Regions from separate parts of the Homo sapiens genome. Here region 2 is reported to be linked to region 1. Evidence: microRNA targets listed by miRTarBase, many of them from high-throughput screens and not tested one by one. Region 1 holds a microRNA gene; the other region holds the end of a gene's coding sequence.

What was found. The annotated mature microRNA hsa-miR-4728-5p reads UGGGAGGGGAGAGGCAGCAAGCA and lies in region 1 at 2,812-2,834, shown strand. An mRNA with a match to its seed (bases 2 to 7 or 8) in the 3' UTR can be bound and repressed. Matches are read on the target gene's strand: a 7mer-m8 pairs with bases 2 to 8, a 7mer-A1 pairs with bases 2 to 7 and ends in A, and an 8mer does both.
Region 2: miRTarBase lists HAVCR1 as a target of hsa-miR-4728-5p. The part of its 3' UTR that is shown has no 7-base or 8-base seed match.

Annotation. Positions count from the first base shown.
Region 1 is chr17:39,723,685-39,728,256 of GRCh38, forward strand. MIR4728 (microRNA 4728) reads left to right here and starts at 2,811; the gene lies at 2,811-2,877. ERBB2 (erb-b2 receptor tyrosine kinase 2) reads left to right here. Exons shown (of 27, transcript NM_004448.4): 19 at 228-326; 20 at 1,042-1,227; 21 at 1,365-1,520; 22 at 1,643-1,718; 23 at 2,023-2,169; 24 at 2,878-2,975; 25 at 3,131-3,319; 26 at 3,611-3,863; 27 at 4,005-4,572. The coding sequence ends at 4,360. RefSeq lists an enhancer at 2,619-3,591.
Region 2 is chr5:157,027,209-157,030,208 of GRCh38, forward strand. HAVCR1 (hepatitis A virus cellular receptor 1) reads right to left here. Exons shown (of 9, transcript NM_001173393.3): 9 at 2,205-2,633. The coding sequence ends at 2,525. Among named protein-coding and RNA genes, the nearest start is that of HAVCR1, 30 kb to the right of the region's middle.

The sequences.
Region 1 (4,572 bases):
CGGCCCCAGAGGATGGGGGCGGTGCCTGGAGGGGTGTGGTCGGCAGTTCTGATGGGAGGGGCAAGAGCTGGAGGCAGTGTTTGGGGGAGGGCAGTTACAGCGGAGAAGGGAGCGGGGCCAAGCCCTAGGGTGGTGAAGGATGTTTGGAGGACAAGTAATGATCTCCTGGAAGGCAGGTAGGATCCAGCCCACGCTCTTCTCACTCATATCCTCCTCTTTCTGCCCAGGGCATCTGGATCCCTGATGGGGAGAATGTGAAAATTCCAGTGGCCATCAAAGTGTTGAGGGAAAACACATCCCCCAAAGCCAACAAAGAAATCTTAGACGTAAGCCCCTCCACCCTCTCCTGCTAGGAGGACAGGAAGGACCCCATGGCTGCAGGTCTGGGCTCTGGTCTCTCTTCATTGGGGTTTGGGGAGATATGACTCCCGCAAACCTAGACTATTTTTTTGGAGACGGAGTCTTGCTCTGTCACCCAGGCTGGAGTGCAGTGGCGTTATCTCGGCTCACTGCAACCTCCACCTCCTGGACTCAAGCGATTTTCATGCCTCAGGCTCCTGAGTAGCTGGGATTACAAGCGCCCGCTAATTTTTTTTTTTTTTTTGAGACAGAGTCTCGCTCTGTCACCCAGGCTAGAGTGAAATGGTGCGGTCTCAGCTCAGCCTCCCAGGTTAAAGCGATTCTTCTCCCTCAGTCTCCTGAGTAGCTGGGATTACAGGCGCGAGCCACCACGCCCGGCTAATTTTTGTATTTTTAGTAGAGATGGGATTTCACCATGTTGGCCAGGTTGGTGTCAAACTCCTGACCTCATGATCCGCCCGCCTCGGCCTCCCAAAGTGCTGGGATTACAGGTGTGAGCCACCGTGCCCGGCCTAATCTTTGTATTTTTAGTAGAGACAGGGTTTCACCATGTTGTCCAGGCTGGTACTTTGAGCCTTCACAGGCTGTGGGCCATGGCTGTGGTTTGTGATGGTTGGGAGGCTGTGTGGTGTTTGGGGGTGTGTGGTCTCCCATACCCTCTCAGCGTACCCTTGTCCCCAGGAAGCATACGTGATGGCTGGTGTGGGCTCCCCATATGTCTCCCGCCTTCTGGGCATCTGCCTGACATCCACGGTGCAGCTGGTGACACAGCTTATGCCCTATGGCTGCCTCTTAGACCATGTCCGGGAAAACCGCGGACGCCTGGGCTCCCAGGACCTGCTGAACTGGTGTATGCAGATTGCCAAGGTATGCACCTGGGCTCTTTGCAGGTCTCTCCGGAGCAAACCCCTATGTCCACAAGGGGCTAGGATGGGGACTCTTGCTGGGCATGTGGCCAGGCCCAGGCCCTCCCAGAAGGTCTACATGGGTGCTTCCCATTCCAGGGGATGAGCTACCTGGAGGATGTGCGGCTCGTACACAGGGACTTGGCCGCTCGGAACGTGCTGGTCAAGAGTCCCAACCATGTCAAAATTACAGACTTCGGGCTGGCTCGGCTGCTGGACATTGACGAGACAGAGTACCATGCAGATGGGGGCAAGGTTAGGTGAAGGACCAAGGAGCAGAGGAGGCTGGGTGGAGTGGTGTCTAGCCCATGGGAGAACTCTGAGTGGCCACCTCCCCACAACACACAGTTGGAGGACTTCCTCTTCTGCCCTCCCAGGTGCCCATCAAGTGGATGGCGCTGGAGTCCATTCTCCGCCGGCGGTTCACCCACCAGAGTGATGTGTGGAGTTATGGTGTGTGATGGGGGGTGTTGGGAGGGGTGGGTGAGGAGCCATGGCTGGAGGGAGGATGAGAGCTGGGATGGGGAGAATTACGGGGCCACCTCAGCATGTGAAGGGAGGGAAGGGGCTGCCTGTGCCCCACCTTGCAGGGTCTGTGCACTTCCCAGGATTAGGGAAAGACCGGGTAGGGTCTGTCTCCTGGCATCACATCTCCCCCTGCTACCTGCCATGATGCTAGACTCCTGAGCAGAACCTCTGGCTCAGTACACTAAAGCTCCCTCTGGCCCTCCCACTCCTGACCCTGTCTCTGCCTTAGGTGTGACTGTGTGGGAGCTGATGACTTTTGGGGCCAAACCTTACGATGGGATCCCAGCCCGGGAGATCCCTGACCTGCTGGAAAAGGGGGAGCGGCTGCCCCAGCCCCCCATCTGCACCATTGATGTCTACATGATCATGGTCAAATGTGCGTGGCTGAGCTGTGCTGGCTGCCTGGAGGAGGGTGGGAGGTCCTGGGTGGAGGAGCCCACAAGGGGCATGAAAGGGGACCAGGATGTATGTAGACCCAGGAGCCCTAGTATGTTAGGAGCCTCAAAACCTTCTTGTATCCCTTTTACAGTCAAAGTCCAAAGCCACTCTTGAGGAACACTCTTGTACAAAATTAAGCTGGGCACAGTGGCTCATGCCTGTAATCCCAGTACTTTTGGAGGCTGAGGTGGGAGGATCCCTTGAAGCCAGGAGTTCAAGACCAGCCTGGGCAACATAGTGAGATCCTATCTCTACAAAAAATAAAAAAATTATCTGGGTGTGGTGGTGTGTGCCAGTAGTCCCAGCTACTCAGGAGAGGCTGAGGCAGGAAGATCACTTGAGCCTAGTTTAAGGTTGCAGTAAGCTATGATTGCACCACTGAAATCCAGCCTGGGTGACAGAGCGAAACCTCATCTCAAAAAAATAAAAAAGCAAACAAAAAGAAAAAAAAAATTAAAAGGGAAACTAGAAGAGATGCCAAAGGTTCTGGCTGAAGACCCCAGAGTCTGGTGCTACTTCTCTACCACCTGAGGGCTTTGGGCTGTCCCTTGGGACTGTCTAGACCAGACTGGAGGGGGAGTGGGAGGGGAGAGGCAGCAAGCACACAGGGCCTGGGACTAGCATGCTGACCTCCCTCCTGCCCCAGGTTGGATGATTGACTCTGAATGTCGGCCAAGATTCCGGGAGTTGGTGTCTGAATTCTCCCGCATGGCCAGGGACCCCCAGCGCTTTGTGGTCATCCAGGTACTGGGCCTCTGTGCCCCATCCCTGCCTGTGGCTAAGAGCACCCTCCTGCAGAGGGTGGGAAGGAGAGATGAGTCCAGTATGCCAGGCCCCTCACGGAAGGCTGCATGCTGGGCTGGGGAGGGGCCACCATCCTGCCTCTCCTTCCTCCACAGAATGAGGACTTGGGCCCAGCCAGTCCCTTGGACAGCACCTTCTACCGCTCACTGCTGGAGGACGATGACATGGGGGACCTGGTGGATGCTGAGGAGTATCTGGTACCCCAGCAGGGCTTCTTCTGTCCAGACCCTGCCCCGGGCGCTGGGGGCATGGTCCACCACAGGCACCGCAGCTCATCTACCAGGGTCAGTGCCCTCGGTCACACTGTGTGGCTGTCTGCTTACCTCCCCCAACCCCGGTGGACTAGGGTCCCTTTCTCTGATGTTCCCTCAACTGTCACCTCTCAAGGAAACCCCATTATCCCTACAAAAAATTCTTACTGCCTTCCAACCCCTGTGACCCCATTCTCTCCACGGTGACTGTGTCATACCCCAAAGGTGACCTCTGTTTTTCTCCTGTGACCCTGTCACCTTCCATGGAGTCCCCATCCCAGATCCGTGAGTGACCCCCATCATGACTTTCTTTCTTGTCCCCAGAGTGGCGGTGGGGACCTGACACTAGGGCTGGAGCCCTCTGAAGAGGAGGCCCCCAGGTCTCCACTGGCACCCTCCGAAGGGGCTGGCTCCGATGTATTTGATGGTGACCTGGGAATGGGGGCAGCCAAGGGGCTGCAAAGCCTCCCCACACATGACCCCAGCCCTCTACAGCGGTACAGTGAGGACCCCACAGTACCCCTGCCCTCTGAGACTGATGGCTACGTTGCCCCCCTGACCTGCAGCCCCCAGCCTGGTATGGAGTCCAGTCTAAGCAGAGAGACTGATGGGCAGGGGAGGTGGGACCTTCAGCCCAGGGTCCACTGTGGGGGCAGAGGGAGTGGCAGAGACACCGGGGTTCCTTCCCCTAATGGGTCACCTTCTCTTGACCTTTCAGAATATGTGAACCAGCCAGATGTTCGGCCCCAGCCCCCTTCGCCCCGAGAGGGCCCTCTGCCTGCTGCCCGACCTGCTGGTGCCACTCTGGAAAGGCCCAAGACTCTCTCCCCAGGGAAGAATGGGGTCGTCAAAGACGTTTTTGCCTTTGGGGGTGCCGTGGAGAACCCCGAGTACTTGACACCCCAGGGAGGAGCTGCCCCTCAGCCCCACCCTCCTCCTGCCTTCAGCCCAGCCTTCGACAACCTCTATTACTGGGACCAGGACCCACCAGAGCGGGGGGCTCCACCCAGCACCTTCAAAGGGACACCTACGGCAGAGAACCCAGAGTACCTGGGTCTGGACGTGCCAGTGTGAACCAGAAGGCCAAGTCCGCAGAAGCCCTGATGTGTCCTCAGGGAGCAGGGAAGGCCTGACTTCTGCTGGCATCAAGAGGTGGGAGGGCCCTCCGACCACTTCCAGGGGAACCTGCCATGCCAGGAACCTGTCCTAAGGAACCTTCCTTCCTGCTTGAGTTCCCAGATGGCTGGAAGGGGTCCAGCCTCGTTGGAAGAGGAACAGCACTGGGG
Region 2 (3,000 bases), not on the chromosome of region 1:
ACATAAGGATTTGGGGATTAGAGGATGCAGCCCCATCTAGTGGGACCCTGGTCACATAGCAATCCAGTCCAATCTTGCCAGGTCTTTCCAGAGAAACTACAAATCTTGGCTTTAATTTCAAATCTCCAATTTTGTGCATGTTGCCTCAAATTTAAGAAAAAAAGACACTATAGCTTTTAAAAAATAAAATTTTTGACCAGATCGGGCTGGCCACATTTGGGAAAACTGAAATACCATGTATCACAATCTTATTTGCCCACAGAATTTTCCTTCAAAGGACCTATAAATTTCCTAGAATGATAACTGCGTTAAAAAATGTTGCCTCTGGCTGGGCGCGGTGGCTTATGCCTGTAATCCCAACACTTTGGGGAGGCCAAAGCGGGTGGCTCACCTGAGGTCAGGAGTTGGAGGCCAGCCTGGCCAATATGGTGAAACCCTGTCTCTACTAAAAATAAGCTGGGCGTTGTGGCGGGCATCTGTAATCCCAGCTACTCAGGAGGCTGAGGCAGGAGAATCACTTGAACCTGGGAGGTGGAGGTTGCAGTGAGCCAAGATTGTGCCATTGCATTTCAGCCTGGGTGACAAGAGCAAAACTCCATCTCAAAAAAACAAAAACAAAAACAAAAAGTTTCCTCTGAAAGCAAGCATCCTGTTGCCCCAGACAACTATGGTATGGGTAGCTCTGAACCTCAACCATGAATTATTTCAGAGTTTACTCAAACTGAAATTGAAATTAATACCCAGCCTTAACTGTTCATGTAGAAATGTTTCTTTTCTGACAAATCTAGCCCTTGCAAATCTATACTTAGTAGAGAACAGTGTTTCTCCATGTTGGTCAGGCTGGTCTCAAACTCCCGACCTCTAGTGATCCACTCACCTCAGCCTTCCAAAGCCCTGGGATTACAGGCATGAGCCACCATGCCCGGCCGGCAAATATATACTTCTAAACAATTATACTGGTTTAGTATAATTGTTTTTTATATATTTTTATACTGACTAAAGATATCCTTACAATAAGCCTAATTGAATTGTAAAAAAAAAAAAAAAAAAAATACAGGAATTGATTAGATATGAGAAAGACACTTTGCCTTTCCAAAACAATTTTATCTTTTTTTTTTTTCCTTAAATTTTTTTCTTAATAGAGATGGGGTATTGCCATGTTGCCCAGGCTGGTCTCAAACTTCTGGGCTCAAGCTACCTGCCCACCTTGGCTTCACAAAGTGCTGGGATTACAGGCATGAGCCACGGCGCTAGCCTCCTAAACAATTTTAAACATGAAAGTGGTTTGGAGGCGATTTAGAATTTGGGTCAAAACTAGTGAGTTTCAAACACTTATATCTGCAATGTAACTTATAAGGCAGAAAAGGCAGACTTTTCCCTACTCCCGCCTTTTTTTTTTCTTTTATTGCTGATCTTCTTGGTTCTAAAAATTTGTTCAGAAAGCCTGATGGTTGTTTAAATGCTTAGCACCATGACACACGTGTAATAAAAATTGCATAAATGGACCAGGCACGGTGGCTCATGCCTGTAATCCCAGCACTTTGGAAGGCCAAGGAGGCTGGATCCTCTGAGGTCAGGAGTTCGAGATCATTCTGGCCAACATGATGAAACCCTGTCTCTACTAAAAAAATACAAAAAATTAGCTGAGCATAGTGGCGGACACCTGTAATCCCAGCTACTCGTGAGGCTGAGGCGGGAGAATTGCTTGAACCCGGAAGGTGGAGGTTACAGTGAGCCGAGATTTCACCATCGCACTCCAGCCTGGGCAACAAGAGCAAAGCTCCATCTCAAAAAAAAAAAAAAAAATTGCATAAATATGTTAAATCACCTGGCAAATGATTTTCTTCCCCTGGTGTCTATGTGTTCCATACTATTGTAGGCTCTTTAACTGGTAAAACAGCTACCCCAATTCAGAGATCCAGTACTTAATGCATCACATTTCCAGAGTTATGAGAAAACAGCTAAACCTGTGAGTTAGACTCACTTTGTTTCCCCACGGAGGAAATAAAAACCCACGATTTGAAACCTTTGGAAAACATAGGAAATGCAACATTTGGAAGTATAACATAGAAACAAGAGATAATCATACAATGCTTCCAAATGAAGTCTCACGTTGGATTTGCTGGTTTTTAAGACAGATTCCCCTCTTCTGGACAGCTGTGATGGCCAAGATAGAAGTTCATTTGCTATGTTTCCAGGGACTATTCTCTTTGATGTATACAGGATTTATGGGGTCTAAAAAGAACATACAATTATAAAGTGTTCATATTTGAGAGAAAACTGCAATGATCAGAAGGATTGAGCCAGTTTTAGCATAAAAAATTAGGACTACATTAATGATGAGGTTGACTATACACAGTTTGGAGTGAGAGAGTTACTCTACCCAGTATCACTGACATGTTGGAATGCCAGATGAAACTGAAACAGAAAAATTGTCTTGGGGTCTAAAAGACGTCTGATGTGCTGATGTCTGTTCAGTCTTCTGCACTCATGGGCGTAAACTCTCAAAGAGCACCACTGGGTCTTAGTCCGTGGCATAAAGACTATTCTCAATGTAGATATTGTCTTCTGCTTGGACTTCCTTTTCAACTGCATTTTGCAAAGCTTTAATTTGAAGGCTGCTAAATGAAACACTGTAGAAAGAGTTGTTGAAGAATAACATGAGTAAGAAAAAAAGCAGACCACTTCTCACATATAAGCTGCACTTTTGTTTATGATCAGGCAATATCAGGTATTCGAGACTCCAGGAGCCCCGTTCACACAAAGTATAAAATAAATAGTGCCTTCCAGAGTTGTAAAAGGTGTGGCTCTTATTATTAAGTTGAAGAAAAGTCTGTTTAATAAGCATGTAGACAATCTAAGAAGTATTCAAAAACTCAGACTGGTCTCTTTGAAACTCGCATAATAGAATACAAAAATGGAAAATCTAAAAATACAGAGCTCTGACATCAAACTAAGTGGCTGAATCAAGATGCATATTTTCAAATGTGGCTAAGCATT